Linked DNA regions of Homo sapiens. The protein of the gene in region 2 binds, or shares a complex with, the protein of the main gene of each other region. Each region holds a gene or a part of one and is shown on either strand. Other genes may lie near its edges.

What was found.
Region 1: DHX29 (region 2) and EIF1AX share a complex: the UniProt entries of both Homo sapiens proteins name them as parts of the 43S pre-initiation complex.

The regions. Positions count from the first base shown.
Region 1 is NC_000023.11:20,136,119-20,148,731, forward strand, and holds the start of EIF1AX (eukaryotic translation initiation factor 1A, X-chromosomal), read right to left. Parts: upstream 5,721-12,613; 5' UTR 5,523-5,720; coding exon 5,507-5,522; intron 4,327-5,506; exon of another isoform or gene 4,217-4,326; intron 4,118-4,216; exon of another isoform or gene 3,850-4,117; intron 2,505-3,849; coding exon 2,421-2,504; intron 296-2,420; exon of another isoform or gene 1-295. UniProt on the Homo sapiens protein: Component of the 43S pre-initiation complex (43S PIC), which binds to the mRNA cap-proximal region, scans mRNA 5'-untranslated region, and locates the initiation codon. This protein enhances formation of the cap-proximal complex.
Region 2 is NC_000005.10:55,299,580-55,312,474, forward strand, and holds the start of DHX29 (ATP-dependent RNA helicase DHX29), read right to left. Parts: upstream 8,116-12,895; 5' UTR 7,995-8,115; coding exon 7,808-7,994; intron 1-7,807. Other genes in the region: MTREX (exosome RNA helicase MTR4), read left to right, coding at 8,435-8,568. UniProt on the Homo sapiens protein: ATP-binding RNA helicase involved in translation initiation. Part of the 43S pre-initiation complex that is required for efficient initiation on mRNAs of higher eukaryotes with structured 5'-UTRs by promoting efficient NTPase-dependent 48S complex formation.

The DNA.
Region 1 (12,613 bases), on a different chromosome or scaffold from region 2:
CCTTTACATCATTGCCCAGAAATGATTAGGCTTTCATAGACATACATATGCACCCCCTCACCCCCAATCTCATTCATTCCTACAACTGCTACCTTTATAAACACGTGTGCGTGCACACACACACACACCCCCCACACACACACCAGACATATGCCCTTATTGTTTTACATTGTTTTATAGTTCTGCTTCTCAGAACTGTAGAGATCATGCATCAGGTAGACCGGAAAGCCTTCTGATGCTCAGATTTGGCTAGTTTCATCATTGATCCACTTCAGTAAAAGCAGATCTCAGAGAATGTAATGCCATTTCTATAATATACTGTCTCTGCTATTAGACATGTTTAAATTATCGACTCATTCTGAATAAGTAGATTGACTACCCCACTTTTGGCTCTCCTTTACCTCAGTACCTTTAGGTGCAAATCTCATAATTTTTAGTTCATTTAGCAAACAAAAACAAACTTCAAACAATGTCTTTGTTGAATTAGAATATGACTAATCCCCAGAGAGGATGTCCATTAATTTGTAAATATACTGAGACTTCATTTTGAAAGGCTCAACAGTGGGGATGACTTGTGGAAGTCAATTACTCAGACTACAGTGAGTTTAGCACCCATCTACCACCTCAACATGGTTGGTCAACTCAAAGGCAGCCTTTCTTCTGAAGTGAGGGAAAAAGTAATAATAAAACAGTGTATGCCCAAGTCAAGTCAGCTGCTATTTTAGAGGCAAGGATGACCAAGGCTAAGAAACCAAAGGACTTTTAGCCAGAAAACGTATCTCATGTTTACTGGTTTATATGTATGGCGTAATAAATCCACCCAAAGTTCTATTAAAAGCTAAAGTACTGGAAATAATTGGAATACCTGAGGAAATATGGAGTATATACTAGATATTATATCAATGTCAAATTACCTGAGTGTGATAATTCTCTTCTAGTTATATAAGAAAATATACTTGCACTTAGAAGATACATGATCAAGTAAGGGAAAAGTAACATGATGTCTCTAAATTTCAAATGGTCCTGAAGAAATCCTACATATGGGGCTAGGTGCGGTGGCTCACGCCTGTAATCCCAGCACTTTCGGAGGCCGAGACGGGTGGATCACGAGGTTAGGAGATCGAGACCCATCCTGGCTAACACAGTGAAACCCCGTCTCTACTAAAAATACAAAAAAAATACCCAGGCATGGTGGCGGGTGCCTGTAGTCCCAGCTACTTGGGAGGCTGAGGCAGGAGAATGGCGTGAACCCGGGAGGTGGAGCTTGTAGTGAGCCGAGATCGCGCCACTGCACTCCAGCCTGGGCGACAGAGCGAGACTCCATCTCAAAAAAAAAATTAAAAAATCCCACATATATATTTCTTTATATGTGTGTGTACAGATGAAGGATTTAAGGGAGTTTGTTGCACTAATACTGCAACTTTCTGTAGGTTTGAAATGACTCGAAATAAAAGTAACAGGAAAGGGCAAACGATCCAGTTAGGATTTATTTGACTAGTGCTATGTATCTTGGTCTGGCACTTACAATATTCTTCAGTCTAATAAAATCAGTTAACTGTTCAGTTTCATTTTATTGTAGTTTACGAAGTTATATGCTAATGGCACTGGAGAATGGAGAGGTCTATAAGGGCCTCAGGCTCATCCTTCAAATGTCCATGGTCTACTCAACATATTATATGTACCATTCACTACCAGAAATGCTAATCATAGAACTGCCAACTAAATCACAGAACTGTCAACCATAGCTCAATTCCCTCTGAACTATACGACACATTCTTAGTTCCCAGTACTTTGGGAGGTCATGGTGGGAGAATCACTTGAGCCCAGGAGTTCGAGAATAGCCAGGGCAACATATGAAGACCTCATCTCTATACAGTTTTTTTTTTTTTTTTTTTTTTTTTTTTGAGACAGAGTCTCCCTCTGTCACCCAGGCTGGAGTGCAGTGGTGTGATCTCGGCTCACTGCAACCTCCGCCTCCCAGGTTCAAACAATTCTCCTGCCTCAGCCTCCTGAGTAGCTGGGATTACAGGCACGTGCCACCACACCCAGCTAATTTTTGTAATTTTAGTAGAGACGGGGTTTCATCATGTTGGTCAGGCTGGTCTCGAACTCCTGACCTCGTGATCCGCCCGCCTTGGCCTCCCAAAGTGCTGGGATTACAGACGTGAGCCACTGCGCCCAGCCTAAAAAAATTTTTAAAATTAGCCAGACGTGGTGGTGTGTGCCTGTAGTCCCAAATACTCGGGAGGCTGAAGTGGAAGGACTGCTTCAGCCCAGGAGGTCATGGCTGCAGTGGGCTGTAATCGTGCCACCACACTTCACCCTGGGCGATGGGCAAGACGCTGTCTCAAAAAAATAAAGTCCCCAGCTAAAAAAGAAAGGATGTTATTTTAAAAAGCGTAATTTATGAAAACACTTACCCTGACCATCCTCTTTGAATACCAGTTCTCTTTTTTCAGATTCATTCTCATTCTTACCCCTGCGTCTGTTTTTACCTCCTTTACCTGATGGTTTAAAAAAAAGAAAAGGAGGTAAATGACATTAATTATCTGTAAAACAGTATGAAATAAAATGAAATTAAGGCTTATAAAACCATTTTTTAAAAGATCACTTAAATTAAAAAATTCATCTATTTTAGCTACACAATCATATTAAATTTACAATCTCCAATCCCAACATTAACACATTATCACCTCCCTACCCTTCTTGGAATTTCCTTTGGGGATTTTTCTGACATAAAATACACATAAATAGCAGATATTATGTTAAAAAATATAGAAAAACATTTCACTTTAGCACCCATCCTTTTGAAATAAAAATGCAATTCTATACATATTCTTCTAAGCGGAAATCTTGGGTGTCTTCTAAAGCCAGGCCCTATGCAAGGAACCCGATACTTTCAAAATTAAGTGAAGACAGTGTCTGGACAGAGAACTGTGGTTTTCAAACTTTTGGTAGCAGAGTACCATAAATATTGAAATCTCACTGGGTGCAGTGGTGTGCGCCTAGGGTCTCAGCTACTCAGGAGGCTCAGGTGGGAGGATCACTTGAGCAAGCCCAGGAGGTTCCAGGCTAGCCTGGGCAACATAGCGAGACACTGTCTCTTAAAAAATAAAGAAGATCTGTTCGGTACCCAATTTACTTTCTTTTATAATGCTGGTCCCTACTCAACATCCCTGTTTCTATTATATGACCCCAGTGACCATGCTCTTAACCACTATGCAATAATTCTGCCCATTTACTTGTCACAATCACCCCATGAGGTCATAACATTCATTTATTCCCAGTTTACCCATGAGTTCCCTGAAGCTCAGAGAAGTTAAGTAAGTCGCTTAGCTTCAGTGAGTAAATCAGTTCACTGATTACAGTCAGTAAGCTGGGGTGACCAAAGTCACAATGTTTTTTTTGCCCCTAGCCCCCACATAAGCTTACCTCTCCACAGCATTTTGCTCCCATTCCAGAAAGGAAACCACATTGGCAGCCATTTCCAAAAGGCAGGAAAAAGGCTGTAAGTGGTAATGACCCTAAGAGACTCATGGGAAGAGCTTGGAAGCAGCAAAAAAAAATGGAGGACACTTAAATTAGGTCATGAAAAGTACCATTCCTCTAAGTAAGATAACTAAGAACTGATTGGTTTCAGACAGTACAGGAATGATAAACACCAAACTCAGCCTGGTGATTACCTCCAAAAAGAGAGTAAAAGGTGATTAGGGCTTTACCTCAATCTGCGCTGTAATTCTTAAATTCAGAGTAATGGGTTCCCAGGTATATCATGTTAGCTGTATTTTTTGTATGCCTCAAATGTTATTTAAGAAAAGACTAATTACTTGTCAATTTACCAGAATTAACCATACCCGGATCACTCCCCTTTGTATTTTATTGCCATGTAATGGGATGTTCTTTAAATTCTCTGTTGAATGAATGAGACTAGGTCTGAGTGTACAACAATTAAAGTGACATCAACATTCTTTAAACCAGAGTTGTTTTGGAGAAATTCCCAGAGAGGCTCTTTCTTAAGACATGAGGCTAGGGAACTAGATGTGATTTAGTGTAGAAGTCCTATCCCCTTGGAACCAAAGCAGAACCTATTATTCACTAAGGGTGGAGTCGACAGGAGGTAGGTGACTTAAACCAACAAATATTTATTAAGCATCTACTAATTGTCAAGTGCTGGCAATCCAATGAGATTAAGACAGATACTATTCCTGCCTTGTAGAGCTTACAGCCTGGTGGAAGAATTGGAAATCTTATTACTAGAAATAAAGGTGAGAATAAGATGGAAGTGATCCCCTTACCACCTCAGAGAGAATAAAGGATTATACAGAAGAAAACTGTAAGACTTTAAAATTTTTTGTTTATAACTCCATCTTTTCCAAAATAATGAGCAGTGACTGCACCAACTTGTGCACAGAACACCTCGACCAAGTACCCTAAGGGATAAAGTAATAAGTGACAGCTACAAAGAGGAAATGTGGTAGAATCCCTGGAGCCAGCTGTCAAGTAGAAAAGAGAGCAGAAGTAGGCCTGTGTCAGGGGAGGGTTTCCTCTAGAATGAATAATCAAAGGAGACTACTTACGGACTATGAAGTATGCTCCTCTCCTGTAGGAAAATACAGTATTTTCCCTATATTTACTTGCACAATTTTCTTCAAGTTATACGGCTATTAAAAATGACAGGAACACTGTAAATCTATAAAAGTAATTTCTTTAGGAGTGTTCTGTTTTTTGTTTTTGTTTTTTTTTTTTTAAGATTAGGCCTTCCGTTTTGGAAATCCCAAATAAAGTTATCCTCAAGTCTGATCATTTGTGAACGCTTAGCCTCAGAATGGAGGACACTTAAATTAGGTCTTTATTCTCACAACATATGCATCATCTGAAGCAAAAGTAGAAAACTTGGCTCAATATGGAATAAGTCTTCAGCAAACAAACATAAGCTATATCCTGTAAAGGGATGGAGAGAGTAAATCTCTAGAGGTGAGCCTTAGAAATGTATCAAGGTTTCACCCACTGTTCACAAGGGACAGCGAGTAGCCTCAACAATACTGAACTGTCCATAAAGAAACCCATGCAGGAGTACCTGGTGCTCACGAATGCAGACAGCACTCTGAAAGTTCAGAACGGCTTCCAGGGATTATAACCCCTCATGCCCGGGAAGGCCAAAGGGGCCTATCTACTAAACCTAGGCCGCCCCGGGGAAGGTTCCCGCCACCGTCCCCACCGAGCAGCGGTCAGTCTGGCGCGAATCAGGAGCAAAAGCCCACATTCTCCCGCAGGAGGCCCTACAAAAATGGCGCCGGCTCCACCCCAATGTGACCAAACTGGGCAACAGGAGTTAACTTCCCAGCTCCTCTCCCGAGCTCAGAGTCGCGTGTGGGGCGCCCAGCCGCGGGCAGGCAGGGCGGGAAGGAAAAAGGGTCACTGCGGCCTGGGTGACCTGCAATCTACGGGCAGGACCTGGGAGACCCGGCCGAGCAGAGCCGTGGTCCGGGGGTCCGGGCGGCATTACCTTTATTCTTGGGCATGGCGGTGGCGGCGACCTCGCGGCGTCTCTGACTTCTTTCCGGGTAGCGGCGACCGCGGCGGCTGCTGCTCCGAGGGGCGACACGAGGGAGCGCGCGGGACCAAGTAGGTGCTGGAGGCCAGGCAACGTGCGCGGGAGAGGCTGGCGACCCAGCTCTTCAGAGATCCGCCTGCGTCCACGCTCGGCGGCAGCAAATGGCGCCGCGACTCTTTGCGTCGCTTTTCCCCGCCTCCCGTCGCCGGCTGGGCCCGCCCCCAGGCTTTATGACGCAGGCGTGGCCGACTGACTCCTATTGTTAGAGCCGAGGGAGACGCGTTGTGGGAGGGTGCGCAGCAAGCCAGAGAGGACGCGAGGGGCAGGGCCTCAAGCAGGGAAAAGGCGGAGTCAGGGAGGGAGGGGGAGAGACTCTGCGTCATAGAAAAGGGCGGGTTGAGGTGGCGCTTGCTGCTGGTTAAGACCAGACCTCTGCTGCTTTGTAGCAAACGCGCGTCTCCCGGTTTCACAAGTGGCTGACTCGTTAACCTCGTGGTTAGCTCAGTTTTTAAAAAATATGTATATTTTTATTTTTATTTTATTTTTTGAGACGGAGTCTTGCTCTAGAGTCGCCCAGGCTGGAGTGCAGTGGCGCGATCTCGGCTCACTGCAACCTCTGCCGCCCGGGTTCAAGCGATTCTCCTGCCTCGGCCTCCGGAGTAGCCGGGATTACAGGCACGTGCCGCCACGCCCGTCTAATTTTTGTGTTTTTAGTAGAGACGGGGTTTCAGCATCTTGGCTAGGCTGGTCTTGAACTCCTGACCACGTGATCCATCCGTCTCGGCCTCCCAAAGTGCTGGGATTACAGGCGTGAGCCACCGCGCCCGGCCAATATTTTAATTTTTTTATTAAGATGGAGTCTTGCTCTATCGCCCAGGCTGGAGTGCAGTGGCGCGATCACGGCTCACTACAACCTCCGCCTCCCGGGCTCAAGCGATTCTCCTGCCTCAGCCTCCCGAGTAGCTGGGATTACAGGCATGTGCCACCATGCCCAGGTAATTTTAGTACTTTTAGTTGAGACGGGGTTTCACCATGTTGGCCAGGCTGGTCTCGAACTCGTGACCTCAACTCGCGCCCACCTCGGCCTCCCAAAGTGCTGGGATTACAGGCGTCAGCCACCGTGCCCAGCCGGTTAGCTCATAACGCAGTCCTTTCACTCGCCCAGCCGGGTTGGGAGCCTGATGGGAAGGGCAAGGCTTTCCTGGCATCCATTACCAAAGCATAATATTTGCATGGCACTTGTTATTACTCTTTAAGTCTGTCTGTCCTACCTCACTGTAAACCTTACCGGGCAGAGACCATGTTTGTTGCTTACCATTACCCCCACTTAGCTGAATGTCTGGCACATAATAGGTGTTCAATACACACAGAAAGGAAGGGAGGGAGGGGAGAAAAGACTTAAGCTCAATGTTAATGGGCTGAATTGTGTCCCCCCCAAAATTCGTATGTTCACGTTCTAATCCCCAGTAACTCAATGTGACTGTATTTGGACATAAGTTCTTCAAAGACGTGATTAAATTGAAATGAGGTCATTAGTGTGGACCCTTATCTGACTGGTGTCCTTACAAGAAGATATTATTAGGCCACAGGCATAGAGGGAGAACACCACGTGAACAAGAAGGTAGCCATCTATAAGCCCAGGAGAGAGGCCAACCCTGTTGACGCTTGATTTTAGACTTTCAGTCTCCAGAACAATGAGAAAATAAATTTCTGTTGTTTAAGCCACTCAGTACGTGGTACTTTGTTATGACAGTCCTAGCAAACTAATACAGCTGGCTAATGCTGGGCTGTACTCTACAAGATTTATTTCTAAGTAAACTTATTTTGACTAAACCAAGTAAACTTATTTTAAATAAATCACCTTTCCACAAACACCAGGGTTTGCACATACTTAGAAGACAGAAATAAAGTATCATCATCTAATATAGTGGTTCTTTTCTGTGAACATTTGGCAGCGTCAACCAGAAATGTTTCTGGTTGTCATAACTTGAGGAGGGGGGCAGTGATGCTGGCATCTAGTGGGCAGAGGCCAGGGATGCGGCTAAACATCCTACAGTGCACAGTACAATCTCCCCTCCCCCATACAAGCAAACAATTATCCAGCCCAAAACATCAGCAGAGCTGATATTGAGAAACCCAATGACAGATGCACTTCTTAGAGTGAAATTGAAAGATAATGGGGGACTCAAAGTTCTGGGTTTCTCTTTCTATCTGCAATATTTTTCAATTTACATAATTGAGGATGAAAGGATTTTTTATGAAATTTATTTAAATTTTGCTCCAAGGTCAAATAATTATGAACTTGAGCTTTGGAGTTAGAGAGGCCTGGGTTCAAATTCAAGCTCTGCAGTAACTTATTACTCTATTTTCTTGGGCAAGTTTTAATCTCTTTACAAGCTTCCGTTTTCTCATCTGTAAATTGGATGTAGGAATAGTACTAACCGGCCAGGCGCAGTGGCTCACACCTATAATCCCAGCACTTTGGGAGGCCGAAGTGGGCGAATCACCTGAGGTCAGGAGTTCGAGACCAGCCTGGCCAAAATGGTGAAACCCCATCTCTACTCAAAAATTCAAAAATTAGCCGGGTATGGTGGCAGGCGCCTATAGTCCCAGCCACTTGGGAGACTGAGGCAGGAGAATCACTTGAACCCAGGAGGCGGAGGTTGCAGTGAGCCAAGATCGCGCCACTGCACTCCAGCCTGGGCAACAAGAGTGAAACTCCATCTCCAACAAACAAACGAACAAAAAAAAAGAAAAAAAAAAGAATAGTACTTACATTAGGTTGTTGCAGGAATTAAATTGATATAATGCATTCAATTAGCAATTGTGCCTAGTACATGGTAAGTAGTTAGACTCTAAGAGTCCGGAACTCTAAATGTTTAAAAATAAAAAGTTTCTGTCAATTACCCAGTATAAAACCTCAAAGAGGAAAAAAAAATATCAGGCTTCATTTCTCTACTGTAGGATGGTTCCCCCATCTGACTGATCATCTTAATCACTTGGAAGGAAGTGAGTCAGGTGGACATCTGGGGGAAATGTGTTCTAGGCAGAGAGAACAGCAAGGGCAAAGGCCCTGAGTGGAAGCATGCTTGGTATATTCAGGAAACAGCAAGAAGCCAGGTGCAGTGGCTTCCACCTGTAATCCCAGTGACTCAGGAGGCTGAGATGGGAAGATCGAGCTTGAGGCCAGTAGTTCGAGACCAGCCCAGGCAACATAGCGAGACCCACCCCCCCATCTCTAAAATAATAAACACACGACAGTAAAAAAAGCCAGGCATGGTAGTTCACATCTGTAGTCCCAGCTACTTGGGAGGCTGAGGCAGGAGGATCCTTAGAGCCCAGGAGTTTGAGGATGCAATGAGCTATGATCGTGCCACTGCATTTCAGCCTGGGCAACAGAGTGAGACCCCATGAAAGAAAGAAGGAAAGGAGGAAGGAGGGAAGGACATAAATGAAGGAAAGGAAAGAAGGAAGGAAGGAAGAAAAGAAAGGTCAGTGTGGCTAGAATGCATTGAGCCAAGGGAAGAATTTGAAGAGATGAGATTGGAGAAGTAAGGAGGCCAGATCACTTGAATCTTCAGTAGGTTTTTTTTTTTTTTTTTTTTTTTTTTTTTGAGACAGAGTCTCGCTCTGTTGCCCAGGCTGGAGTGCAGTGGCGCGATCTTGGCTCACTGCAACCTCCGCCCCCTAGGTTCAAGTGATTCACCTGCCTCAGCCTCCCTTAGTAGCTGGGACTACAGGTGTGCGCTACCGTGCCTGGCTAATTTTTGTATTTTTAGTAGAGACGGGGTTTCGCCATGTTGGCCAGGCTGTTCTCGAACTGCTGACCTCAAGTGATCCACCCGCTTTGGCCTCCCAAAGGGCTGGGATTACAGGCATGAGCCACTGCGCCCGGCCTTTCAGTAGGTTTTTAAATAGATCATTTTGGTTTCTGTGTTAAGAACAGACTGTAGGGGGCAAGGGTGGAAATGGAAACCACACGGGAGGCTACTGTAACAGTCCGAACGAAAGACAGTTGTGGCTTGGACTAGGGTATAAAGTTTCTTTTTAGGATGGTGAGAATGTTCTAAAATTACATTATAATAATGGTTGCACAACTCTGTAAGTACTATACTAAAAGACATTAAATTGCTGGGTGCGGTGGCTCACACCTGTAATCCCAGCACTCTGGGAGGCCGAGGCGGGTGGATCACAAGGTCAGGAGTTCGAGACCAGCCTGGCCAATATGGTGAAACCCCGTCTCTACTAAAAAATACAAAAATTAGCCGTACGTGGTGGTGTGCACCTGTAGTCCCAGCTACTTGGGAGGCTGAGGAGGGAGAATCACTGGAACCCATGAGCTGAGATCGTGCCACTGCATTCCAGGCTGGGCAAGAGTGAGACACTGTCTCAAAAAAAATAAAAACAAAACAAAACAGTAAATTGTACACTTTTTTTTTTGAGACAGAGTTTCATTCTTGTCTCCTAGGCTAGAGTGCAATGGCGTAATCTCAGCTCACTGCAACCTCTGCCTCCCAGATTCAAGTGATTCTCCTGCGTCAGCCTCATGAGTAGGTGGGATTATAGGCTCCTGCCACCATGCCCGGCTAATTTTTGTATTTTTAGTAGAGACGGGGTTTCGCCATGTTGGCCGGGCTGGTCTTGAACTCCTGACCTCAGGTGATCCACCTGCCTCGGCCTCCCAAAGTGCTGGGATTACAGGCATGAGCCACCATGCCCGGCCTAGATTGTACACTTTAAATGGTGAACTGTATGGCGTGTAAACTATATCTCAATAAAACTATTAAAGAAATAGGAGACGGATCAAATGACAAATGGTACTGAGGGTTTAGCTGAGGTTAGAAAATATAAATTTGCAGTGGTATCAGTTTGCATAATTATATGGTTTTCGAAACCACCATTGCAAAATTGTAACTGAGACAATGAGATCTGACCTAACCAACTCCAACTCCATCTTGTTTCTTTTTTTTTTTTTTTGAGACGGAGTCTCACTCTGTCGCCCAGGCTGGAGCGCAGTGGTGAGATCTCGGCTCACTGCAAGCTCCGCCTCCCGGGTTCACGCCATTCTCCTGCCTCAGCCTCCTGAGTAGCTGGGACTACAGGTGCCCGCCACCATGCCCGGCTAATTTTTTGTATTTTTAGTGGAGACGAGGTTTCACCATGTTAGCCAGGATGGTCTATGATTTCCTGACCTCGTGATCCGCCCACCTCGGCCTCCCAAAGTGCTGGGATTACAGGCGTGAGCCACCGTGCCTGGCCAACTCCATCTTGTTTCTAACCTCCAAGCTGTCCTTGTTCATTCCTGGGTGTAGGCTGGACTAACTTTAGGAGAAATTTAGTTTACAGTTTAAAACAAAAATGATAACAGCCCTTTCCCAAAATGAATCCCCTTCTTGCCTGGGGACTAGACTGCCTTTGTGGGACTAACAAATTAGCCAAAAGATTAGAAATTATGGTTTAGGAGTCATGCAGCTGGAGGCTACAAGATTCTGACTCTCTCCAAATTGCTCCTGGGGATAACATCGCTATCATAAAGCCTAAGATCAGTGCTTGATATATTTTGCAGACCCTGCACTTGATGGATCAGTTGGCACCACCCAGATCAATAAACTGGCTAATATGAGCTTGTGGCCCCCACCCAGGAACTGACTCATTGCAAGAGGACAGCTTCAATCCCCTATGATTTCATCTCTGACCTGGCCAATCAGCATTCTTGACTCACCGCCCCCCGACCCCCCACCAAATTATCCTTTAAAACTCTGATTCCTGAATGCTTAGGGAGACTGATTTGAGTAATAATAAAACTCCAGTCTCCTATACAGCTGGCTCTGCATGAATTACTCTTTCTCTACTGCAATTCTCCTGTCTTGATAAATTGGCTCTGTCTCCACAGAGCAAGGTGAATCCACTGGGTGGTTACATTTCTTCCATACAATAGCTGACTGCATACAATCATTAACCAAAATGATCCAGGATTGGAGTTTTTTTTTTTTTTTTTTTTTTTTGCTCAGTGGGTGCAGAATAAGGGAAAAATATAAGGAAGTTGCGGGTGCTTCTAAGAGAGAAGTTCAGATTATCAACTATGGGGCCATGAGGTTCAGTCTGGATAAAAAAGGAAATAAAGACTGGGGACTGTGGGGGAAAACCCCAGAGGTATAAAATTCAAATTCCTTAATATGATTTATTATGCCTTTGATGATCTGGCTCCTGCTTATCTCTTGAGCCTCACATTATTTCTTCTTCTCTTACTTTTTAAGTTCTAGTCATACAGAACTTTTGAGTGCCTCTAATTCCGAATTTCTATACATTCTATTCTACCCTTCTCCCTTGCCCTTTTAGGTCTCAGATTAATAATTGTTTCCTTAGAAGGTCTGCTCTAATCCCTAGGCAACCCTGCTACATATTCCTACAGCATCCTGCACTTCCTTTACCTAGCTTTTTTTTAGTGTGTCAATTTTATGAATTCAGGGTACATTAATATAAAGCTGCAGAAGCCTGACCATGGCCAATACTGCTACTCTGTGTCAGTCTGTCTGAGAAGCCAGGTGTTTCTATAATCATGGTAGGCAGACTAATGAACTTCAAAGATGTCCATGTCCAAATCCCTGGAATCCGTGAATTATGTTATCTCACATGGCAACAGGGAATAAAAGTTGCAGATGCAATTAATGTTGCTAATCTGTTGACCTTGAGATGGAGAGATTATCCTAGATTACGTGCGTAGGTGAAATCTAATCACACGAGTCCTTAAAAGTGGAAGAGGCAGAAGAGGAGGGGCAAAAAGATGCATATGGAGAGGACTTGACCCACTGTTGCTGGTTTTGAAGATGAAGGAATGGGCCATAAGTCAAGGAATGGAGGCAGCCTTTAGAAACTGGAAGAGGCAAGGAAACAATTCTTCCCTAGGGCCTCTGGAAAGGAACGTAGCAGCCTTGCTGACACCTTGATTTTAGCTCAGTGAGACCTGTATTGGACTTCTGATCTCCAGAAGTGTAAGATAACAAATTTGTGTTGTTTTAAGCCACTAAATTGTAGTAATTTGTTACAAAAATGGTAGAA
Region 2 (12,895 bases):
AGAATCGTTCCTTCCCCCTTCCAGCTTCTGGTGGCAGCATAACACCAGTCTCTGCCTCCTCATTCACACGGCCTTCTTCCCTTTCTCTGTGTCCAAATGTCCCTCTCCTTTCTCTTGACATTCATTATTGGATTTAGGAATCACCCTAAATCTAGTATAATTTCATCTCAAGATCCACAGATCTGTAGAGCTTATTTCCAAACAAGGTCACATTCTGAGGTTCCAGGTGGACATGAATATTTGGGGGGACACTACTCACTCAACCCACTACAGTTGCCAAGTCTGTTCCAGTGAACAGAAACGCTGTCTAGTCTCAGTCCTTTAACAATGAGTAACCAGGAAACAACACACATTATTTTCAAACTTTTGGTCTCATGACCCCTTACTCTCTTAAAAATTACTGAGGATCCAAATAGTTTTTGTTTATGTGGGTTATGTCTATTGATACTTAGTATATTATAAATTAAAAGGGAAATTTTAAAACATTCATTCACCAAAAATAATAAATCTGGCCAGGCGCAGTGGCTCATGCCTGTAATCCCAGCACTTTGGGAGGCTGAGGTAGGAGGATCTCTTGAGCCCAGGAGTTTGAGAGCAGTCTGGGCAATATAGTGAGACTTTGCCTCTACAAAAATTATCCAGCTGTGGTAGCACATGTCTGAAGTCCCAGGTACTCAAGAGGCTGAGGCAGGAAAACTGCTTGAACCCAGGAGTTCAAGGCTGCAGTAGTAGCTACAGTGAGCTGTGACTGCAACACTGCACTCCAGCCTGGGCAACAGAGTGAGACCCTGTCTCTAATAATAATAATAATAGGCCAGGTGTGGTGGCTCATGCCTGTAATCCCAGCACTTGGGACGCGGAGGCGGGCAGATCACATGAGGTCAGGAGTTTGAGACCAGCCTGGCCAATATGGCAAAACCCCATTTCTAGTAAAAATACAAAAATTAGCTGGGCCTGGTGATGCATGCCTGTAATCCCAGCTACTTGGGAAGCTGAGGCAGGAGAACTGCTTTAACCCAGGAGGCAGAGGTTGCAGTGAGCCGAGACTGCACCACTGCACTCTGGCCTGGGAGACAGAGCGAGACTCTGTCTCAAAAAAACAAAAGGACCTCAACAAAATAATAAAAATAAACCTGTTCCATTAATATAAATGATGCTTAAGATGAAATGTGACTATATTTTTCAAGACAAAAAATAATATCCGTTTTTGCAAATCTCTTTAATATCTGGTATCTTAGTCTGCTCAGACTGCCACAACAAAATACCACAGACTGCTGGATGGCTTCACCATCAGAAATTTATTTCTCATAGTTCTGGAGGTTGGGAAGTCCAAGATTAGGGTACCAGCAAGGGAGGTTTCATTCTGAGGCCTCTTCTCTTGGCATGTAGGTGGCCATCATCTTGCTATATGTTCACATGGCTTTTTTCTCTGTGCTTACTCAGAGAAACTGAGCTCTCTTGGGTATCTCATTTTATAAGGACACTAATCCTGTTGGATCAGGGCCCCATCCCTGTGATCTCATTTAACCTTATGTACTTCCTTAGAGCCCTTATCTCCAAATATAGCCACACTGGGGGTAAGGGTCTCAACATACTAATTTTTTGAGGACACAAACATTCAGTTCGTAACATCTAGCTTCTGCATTCAATCTGCCGTAACATTACACATCATGTAGCCAACTGGACAACCTCACTGCATAATCATGAGAAAATGAGCGTGAAAAATGGCAAAAACATCTCAGAATTATTATGAAAAGTTTTCACTTCATGGAGCCCTTGGCAAACAAGTCTCAGGTTCCTTAGGACCTCCTGAGCACACTTTGAGAAACACTGCTGTATAAGAATGATCCCAGGCCAGGCGTGGTGGCTCACGCCTGTAATCCCAACACTTTGGGAGGCCAAGGCAGGTGGATCACCTGAGGTCAGGAGTTCAAGACCAGCCTGACCAACATGGAGAAACCCCATCTCTACTAAAAATACAAAATTAGCCAGGCGTGGTGGTGCATGCCTGTAATCCCAGCTACTCGGGAGGCTGAGGCAGGAGAATCGCTTGAACTCAGAAGGCGGAGGTTGCAGTGAGCCGAGATTTCGCCATTGCACTCCAGCCTGGGCAACAAGAGTGAAACTCCATCTCAAAAAAAAAAAAAAAAAAAAAAACAAGAATGATTCCAGAATCATAAATCTAGTTGCATGGTTTTTATACACCTTAAAATAAGAAGTATTTTTTCTACTTTGAGACATTTAAACATTAAATGTTCTTATGATTTTAAAGTCAAAGACTTTGCTCTCTGCTGGGTTACATTAGGTTCTTCATTTTAAGATGGTAGCTAATATAATTAGATATTTTAAAAGAACAAAAGTTTTTGAGAATAACTACTTGAAATTAACTTGTACATCTGGGCAGTCTGAAAGAGAAACATTTGTGGTTCTCTGTCAATTACTGCTATGCTATAGTTATATCGGAGGTACCCAAAGCTACATGGCATATGTAAAAAGATAATAACAAGTCTGGTATAGTATTGTTAGTTTCCTTATCGTCTAGTCTCAAACTTTACCTTAATTCTAGTAATCTCTCCTATAAATTCATGTCAATGGTCATAAAGGAGAGTATATATTTAGTAGTCTTTAACTATTTCTGGGGAGTCTTATCAATTATAGTAAGCTTGTGCACAAATTTAGCATGCAGTTTTAGAGGTCCCCAAACACATCAAGAGGCCCCAGCTATAACCCTTTTAAAAAGTTACAGATAGATGAGCAGTACATTACCAAGACTACATGGAGAAACAGTTCAAAGTTCATATGCTACTGACAAGAGTAAGACTGTAAATTCCTTTAAAAATGCCAGCCGGGGCAACATGGTGAAACCCCATCTCTACAAAAAATACAAAATATTAGCTAGGTGTGGTGGCTTGTGCCTGTAATCCCAGCTACTTGGGAGGCTGAGATGGGAGGATTGCTTGAGCCTGGGAGGCAGAGATTGTAGTGAGCCACTGGGCGACAGAGTGACCCTATCAAAAAAAAAAAAAAAAAAAACTGGTTGGTTTTTAATTTACCCAGTTGAAAAGATTAAAGTAAAATTCTCATTTGTCTCCTCCAAACATTTCACCTAAGAGTTTCAACTGTATCACTTCCTTGAAGTTGGCTTATACTGCAAACTTCCAGAGGGTAAACAAAAGAGCTGAGTTTCTGAAAAATGATCAGAGAAATCAAGGAATCCTGCTCAACATTCACTGGGCCACGTTCACTTTTGCCAAGTAAAGTGCATAAGATTTATGACAGCTACTTTCCTTATTGCCTGGAGACTTTTACAATTTTTGGTTTTGTGTTTAAGATGGTGGAAGTTACTGGAAATCTGACTGGAAGTAAGGATGTTAGTATGCAATATCTCCAAGGCAAAGTATTATGAATTCCAAATTTATAAATGAAAGGTCATGGAACGATGCAACATATATAGCTGGCTCTCAAAAATATTTATTACATTAAAGTTGAAGCACAGACAAACTGATTTCCTCAAAATGACTCAGCTAATTAAAAAAAAAAAATCAACCAGAATCAGTTTCTTATTGCCCAATAATCTTTTCTTTTGCTACATATTCTTTTTATACTGTATTTTAAAGGAAAAAGCAATGCTAATGACCCACTATGACTAAGACATTGACTTTGAGTTGTTAGCACTCTGATTCCCTTCTGATCGACAGTGTGTACATCTGCAGAATGGTTAATCAGGCAAGGGACCCAAACAGGGACTCTGGTGGTAAACAGACCCAGTGCCTGTCCTCATGGAGCTTATATTCTGGAACAGTAATATAATTAGTAAGCAACTAATACTCAGATGAGTAATAAAGGGGAAGTGCAGAGTGCCAAGAAAATAGATGAGGGTGAATTGATGTAGTCTGAGCAATTAAGGCCTGTGAGGAAGTACACACTGCCAGGGCCGCCTGACTAATTATTTTGAAATGTAAACCAGCTAAAGTTTCTCCTCTACTTAATACCAACACCGGCCCCCACTTCCCATTGAACTTGCTCTGGCTCCTTCCCAGACTTCCAGCCACATTTTAACTTTTTCTTTCTTCGCTCCAGCCACACAGCACTATCTTCTTACAACATGTCAAACTTGTTTCCACCTTAGGGTTTTTAGGCTTGTTTTTCCCTCTGCCACAAATACTCTGCAGATCATCTCAGTTTAAATGTTTTCTAAGGGAAGCTATTCCTATTTCAAACCAAAATAGACCCTCCATTCTCCATTTAATGTTTACCAAGTCACTATTTTCTGTTCCTCATAGCACTTTTTCTATTTTAGTGACCCTAAAAAAAAATTTATAATGGCTTTCATAAATTTATGACATCCATTCCCAATTCTTATTCCCCTCTTAAAATTTTAAGCCTCAACTAGGTTCAAGGATTTTCAGAAACACAAGCCTCTTGGTTGGAAGAGAAAACTTAAATTACTGAACCTCTTATTTTGGTCTCAGTCATAACATGATAAAGCAGCTTAATTATACTTAGGCTAAGGAAGTGGCACTTCTAAAGCACAGGAATGGAAAGAAGAAAGAAAAGAAAAGAAAGGCAAAGAGAAGGACAGTAAAAGAAAGATGGGGAAAGGTCTTGCTATTTCTAGAACACTCCAGGCTTGCATCTCAAGGCCTTTCTGTTCCCTCTCCCCAGGAGACTCTTTACCCAGTCATCTGTGTAACTACTTTACCTGCCTCCTTTGCTTGCTCAAATGTCACTTTTTTTTTTTTTTTTTTTTTTGAGACCGAGTCTTGCTGTCACCCAGGCTGGAGTGCAGTGGCACAATCTCAGCTCACTGCAAGCTCCGCCTCCCGGGTTCACGCCATTCTCCTGCCTCAGCCTCTCCGAGTAGCTGGGACTACAGGCGCTCGCCACTATGCCCAGCTAATTTTTTATATTTTTAGTAGAGACGGGGTTTCACCGTGGTCTCAATCTCCTGACCTCGTGATCCGCCTGCCTCGGCCTCCCAAAGTGCTGGGATTACAAGCGTGAGCCACTGCGCCTAGCCACCTTCTTATATGATGCCTTCCTTCCCTGACCATCCTATTTAATACTGAACCTCTCCCCACCCTCCTCCCTATTCGGCCTCTTCAGAAATTCTTTCATGAGCAAATGAAATTAAAAAAAAAACAAGACTGGTATTACTTGTTGTGCAAGCCATTTGGTGATTCTGAACCTCTACGATAGAGGACAATTTTGACCAGCTGTGCCGTCAAATTGGAAAGATAAGGAGGGACGGAAGTAGAGTAGAACCATTACATCTACATTAGGAACTACACAGAGTTGAGCATTTTTCCACTTTTTTCTCCAAAATAGGTTTATTGTACGTTATACTATATATTAAAAGCACCCTAAAATAAACCCAAAAGTTATGTGCAAATTTAGTAGATAACCTCTAGTTTTTTTCTCTTGATTTCTTGGTCTTAATAATTCCTTTGAACTTTCCTTACCAGTTATCCAAGTAATTTTCTTCATGACAATATGCACAGCACTAGAGTAGATACTGGGGAAATGTTAACACATATCCATAAAACTGTTCCTACCTCCTGTAATTTTGTTGGATATATAAAACATATAATTCTTTACATATCATAAGGCAAGAACTAACTATCAAAAAGAATGATTTAAACAACTATGATACGTCAGTTGTGAATAGCAGGAAGAATTCAAAAGGAAGTTGTTATCTGAAATGGGTATTTTAAGGTTTTGGTAGATGATGTTAGGGACAGATTGCACTCCATGAAGAAAAACATGGCAAGAATAAATACGAGGAAGGAGAAAGCTAAGAGCTCCATTTGGAGAAATGAAAACACACCAGACTTGCTATAGTTGAATAGAGGAATTATTAAAAGGTTAGAAAGAGGGTTTTAGAAGCTAGCTAAATGATTTGGATTTTATTGCAAAGTCAGTGAGGATGCCATGGAAGAAAATAGGAAGTGTTACGACCAAAGCAGCATTTCTGGAAGATCAGTCTGATGTTGATATGCAAGACCAACTGGAGGAAGCAAAATGAGCACAGCTGTGGAGCCCTATTAAAAGACTTCGTTGCTACTCCAGGAATTCACAGGTACCAAGACTAGGATGTGAACTACACAAATGCAAAGTGAAATATGGAAAAACAGAAACAAGGAAGTCGAAGAAAAAGTTAGTTTGGGGAAAGAAGAGTGGTTTAGTACTAGCCCTGTTAAATTTGAGATGCTTGCAAAAAATAGGGTCAGAGAATCCAGCAAAATGTATAAATTGCCAACTTGAGCTTGGAAGAGAGGCCATCTACAAAGGAAAAGATAGAAGTAATGGAAATAGATGAACACTCCTAGAAGGGCTTTAGGAGTGAACTATACTGTCAAGGATTGACACCTTGAGAAAGGGTCACAGTTTGGGGCTGGAGGAAAGGGAATTCAAAGAATACAACAAATGACTATCGGTTCAAATTCAGAGGAATGTCAGTAAAAGACAAAGGAAAAGTAAAAAAGAGGCTGATCCACAGAATAAAACTGCCATAGTTGTCAGGGAGAAATTCTATGTATTTGTAATTACAAGTATGCTAACTCTGTAGCTAACACTACAATAAATCGCAGGGCAAAGAACTGTTTCCACCTTCTAGGTAAAGGTCTGGTACCTGCCTACTTTTTCAGTCTCATCTCATTTCATCCTTTGGCGATGCTTTATGTTCTGTGAATTCCTCAAGAGCCCCAAGCTCTTTCCTGACTCAAACTTTTTACACATGATGTTCATTACGCCCGCCTGGAATACTAATTTCTGCCATGCTTCACAGAGTTAACTCCTTTTTCATTCTCCTCATCTCAGCTTAACTGTTACATTTCCAGACACCATCCATGATACCTGCTCATCCCGAGAAAAATTAGATTACCCTGTTAAACTGTCTTCCCTGGCTTTTCTTTGTGGCACTTATCTATTATAAGGCTATAAATATGTCTGTGTGCGTTACCTATTAGTTAATACCTATCTCTGACATTAGACTGGCAAGCTCCATGAGGTGATGTCTCTTTTTGCTCATCACATTCCTCACATCTTATCAGACACATACTAAATATTTGCATATATACACATAAATGCTCAGCAAATATTTCTTGAATACTCCAATAAGTACAAGCAAACAACCCGAGAAGAACACAACAGAATGTAATTGTTCATCTTTTGAGCTCAACCGTAATATGTGGCCTGCTCATCTGCAGCAGGAATCGGCCATCTATAAGTTGAGTTGTCAAATCAATTTGTACAGTAAGCAAAACTGCATGGCGGCAGAAACGAGGGCAGACAATTTTACAATAGATTACACGTAACCAGTGTGTAACCAGTGTGTAAGTCCTGTAATTTTTATTAAGTATTGATTTTTCCAGAACGCATGGAGACACTAGATTGTTGCTGAAAATGATATGAAAAACTGACAGAAAATGGGGCTGGCTGGCACCAGGAGGTCAGGAACTCCACTCAGTACTCGTCTTTGCGTTAGCCTAGCTAGCTGAGATGGTGCTCAGGATGAATTCCTGCTGAAACAGGAGCTAATGCAATTATTTTGTTTTTAGAAGGGGGAGAAGTGTGAGTTAAAAGAGAAATGCCAGGCTGCAACAGGGCTACTGTCAGAATTTTGGAGGCCCAAAGAGCTTAGACTTTTTTAATCTAAAACAAGGCCACCCCATGGGGAGGTAGCAGCTCGAGTGTTGGGAAATAGAAATGTTGGGCCCGAAGCTCCTCCCGGGTTCTAAGGCCCTTTCCTCAGGACAAGCAGCAAGGTCTCAGGGCAGACAGCCAGGGGCTGGGGGACCTCTCGTACCTTGCTTGACACGGGGCTCCCTGGAGCCGGCAGCGGCAGCGGCAGCGGTGGCCGGCCTGGACACTGGCTTCTTGCTTTGGGCCTCCCCGGCAATTCCAGCCTCGGCAGATTTGGCTCTGGAAGCAGACACGGCGGCCCGGACCACCGCGGCCGCTGGAGCCTTGTGTTTCTTGTTCTTGCCGCCCATGTTGCAGCTGTGGCAGAAGATCCTTCGCGGCCCAGGCCCCGACGGTACCACTGCACAGCCGAGAGCTCTTCACATTCCCCGGCTCCGGGGCTGCCACCCTGCGCTTCGATCCGGGCTTCTCGGGCCGGGGCGACCGCTGCCTCGCAATTGGTCGAATTCAGCAGGCTCCGCCTCCTTGAGTCGCCAGCTGCCTGCCACACGCCAGGCGCCACGCGCCGCCCTCGCTCTTTATCCACTGAGCAGCTTATCCACTTTAGGTCGGAAAGGAAAGGAAAGAAAAGCAGGAAAAAAAAAAAAAGTCAGGGGAACATTTTTGTCGGCTGCGCGACTCGACTACTTTTGTCTCCTGCGGGCCACTGTTGAGCCTTCACGAGACGTCACTGTCTTCGGTCGCGGGGCATCGTGGGTAGGAGGGAGATTTGCTCTCACTGCTCCCAAAAATGGCGGACGCATTCGGAGATGAGCTGTTCAGCGTGTTCGAGGGCGACTCGACCACTGCGGCGGGAACCAAAAAAGACAAGGAAAAGGACAAGGGGAAATGGAAGGGGCCTCCAGGGTCTGCAGACAAGGCAGGGTAAGGAAGAAGTTCCAGTTGTTGCTTTTATTTTTTTTCTCGGTGGGGAGGAAGAAAACACTACTCTCTTAGGAAGAGCACGAGAAAGTGAAGTGTACATTGAGTGGCGTTGGAAGTGAAGGGGTTCCAGAAAAAAGTTGGAGAGGGTGGAAGAATGTTGGTTCGTGGAAGGGGGGTCTTGGCGTTTCCTGGTGTCTGCAGGCAGCGTGATCTTCTGCTTCAATTCCCTTACGTCGATGTTACTGATTCTGTCCCCATCTTCGCGGTTGTCTCCTGCATCAGCACAACACCTGGCACATAGTCGTTAATAAACAAAACGAATGATTAGTTGAGTAAAAGGTGAAAAGGTTTAGAAAAAATGATATGAATTGATTTGGAGGGGAAAGGGCAGATAATAACATGAGAAGGGAGAGACATTTAATCTCCAAGATGTAGTAGTTTTCTCTTCCGTAAAATGGAGATAATAGTGCCTACCACTGGTGGATATGAGGATTCAATGAGATACACGTGTAAAGTGCCTAACAGTGGTTAGCTAGCTATCACTAATAAATGGTAGCTATCGTGAGTTTATTGAGAAAAAATTTAAAAATTACTGGACCCTACCCATATGTTTAGACTGGTGCATACAGCCACCAGAAAGTGTACAGATCTGTTTATAGTAGAACAAGGAAAAGCTATTACTTGTATTAAATAAAGTAAGATGATTAATTAACAATCAACAAAATATACTCTTGGCATTGTGGGGCCAGATACCCAATAGATGCTTGAAATTAAATTAGACATGATTTTGCTCTCAAGGAATTTTCGGTGTAGGGAAAGAGAACAGGTACCCATTAAAGAGTTACAGTATAGGTGAGGAGGTCGTTAACTTAAAATGAATGATATATACAATTAAGTGTTATAAAAGTTCAAGAAAGGGAGATCCTATTTCTGACTTTCAGGAAGGCTTATTTATATACAAGAGAATATTCTGAGTTAAGGAAATTGTGTTGTTAATGGTGCCAAGTTTGTTTGTTTTTAGGAGCATAAATTGAGCAAGAGGAACTGTTTCATTTAGGGACTACAAGAGATAAGACTGGGAATATACATTGATTTGAGAACATGAGGGGCCTTGAATATCAAGCAGAGGAGTTTTGATTTCATTTTTAAAACCCTGTTGAACAAGGTGATTGGATAAGTAGAATGATAGTTTAGGAAAATTAATTTGGCAGTGGTTGGCAGAGTACTATAATAGTATAGGGAAAGAAGATAGACAGTGAGAAAGTAAATTAGGAAATTATGTTAGTTATCTGGTTGTAAAGATGAAAAGAACCTCAACTCAGGCAGTGGCAGAGGAATGGAAAGGTACGAACATGTTAAGGAAAAAATGGACAGGCCTTCATTAATTAAGGAAAACAAGGGAAAGGAAGTCAAAAGAGATGTTTAATTTGCATGTCAGGGTGAAAAAAACAGGGACGTTCAGAGGTTTTGATATAGTGATAACATTAATTTGGCTTGAGACAATGTGAAGGGATGCTAGTATGTCTGTAGGAAAATGTCCACTGGGTAGTTTTAATAGGGTTTTGGAGAGAGACCAGGACTGGAGGTATATATTTGAATATCATTTGAATTGGTCTCCTTGAGATAGAGATCTCTGTGGGGAAGTAAGTGACACAACACAGAACTTCTGGAGAGGGTACATAAGCCTAAATAAGAGATTAGAGGGATAAGAGAAAATTCTATCAGGAGTGCGAAATGAGTGGAACAAAGTGGAAAAATAGTCTACTCGCATTAAGTTGGATTGGGAGAGTTTGGGGAAGCTTTTCAGAGAAAATAAGAAAGGAGGACCAATTATTTTTATTTCTTTCAAGACAGGAAGTAATAGTTGCTAGAGTGTTTGAATGGGCAACTATGATATTATGAAGACAATACATGTATAATTTACCATGTTAGTATATACTTTACCTCAAATTTGCTAGGATAAAATGAGTTTTATTTGCAGGTTAGTTGGGGTAAGCTGTTTGACAGCCTTCCAAAGTGAAAAGAGGAAATAAAAATCTAATTTACATTTCATTATATTAGGAAATGAATATTAGAGAAAGGAAATAAGAAAACACAGGAGAACGTTAGTAGCTTAAAGGGTTTTGTTTACTACCAACACTTCTAGCAAGGTCTTCTAGATATTTTTAAGAAAAAAATCCTGGCCGGGCGTGGTGGCTCACGCCTCTAATCCCACTTTGGGAGGCGGAGGCTGGCAGATCACCTGAGGTCAAGAGTTCGAGACCAGCTTCACCAACATGGCGAAACCCCATCTCTACTAAAAATACAAAATTTAGCCATGCCTGGTGGCAGGCGCCTGTAATCCCAGCTAGTTGGGAGGCTGAGACAAGAGAATGGCTTGAACCTGGGAGGTGGAGGTTGCAGTGAGCCGAGACTGTGCCACTGCACTCCAGCCTGGGCGACAGAGCTTGACTCCATCTCAAAAAAAAAAAGAGAAAAAATCCTATTTGCCTGATTGCAGTGGCCATACTAACATTATGCATAGTGTGATTCTCATCTGATCTGTGTAACATAGGAGGGCAAATCATGGAACTTCAGAGGAACTTGCCCTTTATTTAGTATTCTAGATCAAGTGGATGCTTTTTAAAAAAATAGTTTCTTTACCTTTTAGAGATGGGGTCTCATTTTCTCACCCAGGCTGGAGTGCACTGGTGCTTAGCAGCTTATGGTAACCTCGAACTCCTGGCCTCAAGCATTCCTCCCACCTCAGCCTCCTGAATAGCTAGAAGTACAGGTACACACCACCATATCGGGCTAATTTTAAAAATGTTTTGTAGAGACGGGTGTCTCATAGTATGTTGCCCAGGCTGGTTTCAAACTCCTGGCCTCAAGCAGTCCTCCCACCTTGGCCTCTGAAAGTGTTGGGATTCCAGATGTGAGCCACTGTGCACAGCCAGTGAGTACTTTTTAAAAAAACTTTATGAGAATTGTCAAACTATGTATTTTATATATAAAACAGTATGAAGAGCTTCATGTACTCATAACTCAGCTTCACCAATATCAAGTCATGATCAGTCTATTCCTACATCTTTTTTTTTTAATCAAATGCAAGTTGTTTTTTCTCCCTAAATATTTCAGTATTTATGTCATCCAACAAAACTAACAATAATTCCTTAATATCGTTAAATACTGAATCTGCAGTGAGATGTCCCCAGTTGTCTCGGATGTTTTTTGATCATTGGTAGTTGAATCAGGATTCAAACAAAACCCTACACTGTTTTTATTGTTATGTCCCTTAAGTATTTTATGCTACAACAGCCTCCCTCTTTTTTCTTTCTGCCATTGATTTCTATTTTGGAGGGATGAGTGAAGGGAGAAACCAGGTCATCTATTCTGTGGAGTTTCCCACATCCTGGATTTGCTTTCTTAAACTGCCATTTAACTTGCTCCTGTATCCTCAAGTATCTTCTGTAAACTGTCCTCATCCCTAGAGCTGCATTTTGTGACATAATAGCCACTATCCTCACGTAGCTGTTGAGCACTTAAAATATGACTTGTCAGAATTGAGATGTTCGGTGAGTGTAAAATTCACACCAGAATTGGAAACGTTAATATGAAAATTGTAAAATATCTCCTTAATTTTAATTTGGTTATAATTGAAATGATAGTATTTTGCATATATTGGGTTCAATGAAAGATATTAAAATTTATTTCAACAGTTTCTTTTTACCTTTTTAAATGTGGTTATTAGAAAATTTTAAATTACATATGCAGCTTGTAGCTTGTATATGTATGTATATATACTGGACTGCTCTGATCTAGTGGCTTGATTAGATTCAGGTTCAGTTTACTTCCTATTTCATTACATCATAATGTCTGAATATTCTACTGTTCTAAGATTGACAAGTTGGCGAAAATAGTATCACCCTGATTCCTCATCAACCTTTCACATGACGGCTTTAGCACCTAGTGATAATTGCCCAGGTCCATTACTTCACTAGTACTTGCACAGTGGCGATTTTCTGTTTTTATCATTTCTCTCTGCATTTATTACCTGGAATCCACCTATTAAAAAAGGCATTGTCTCATCAGCTGTTTGTTTACCTTGAAATACAGTTCATAAAGAAAAGGCAGGATAAATGCTTGATCCTTTAACAATTTTTAAGGAAATGAGTTGTGCCCTAAGGAAGTTTCAATGGTGACCAACATGGGTGTATGATTATGTTTCGTTTCTGGGTAAATGAGTGGATTTTTATATATTTACTCCTTTGCACTTATTTCTTCTTCTTTTTTTTTTTAATCTTATTGGGGTATAACTGAAGTGCAGTAAACCACCACAATCAAGATA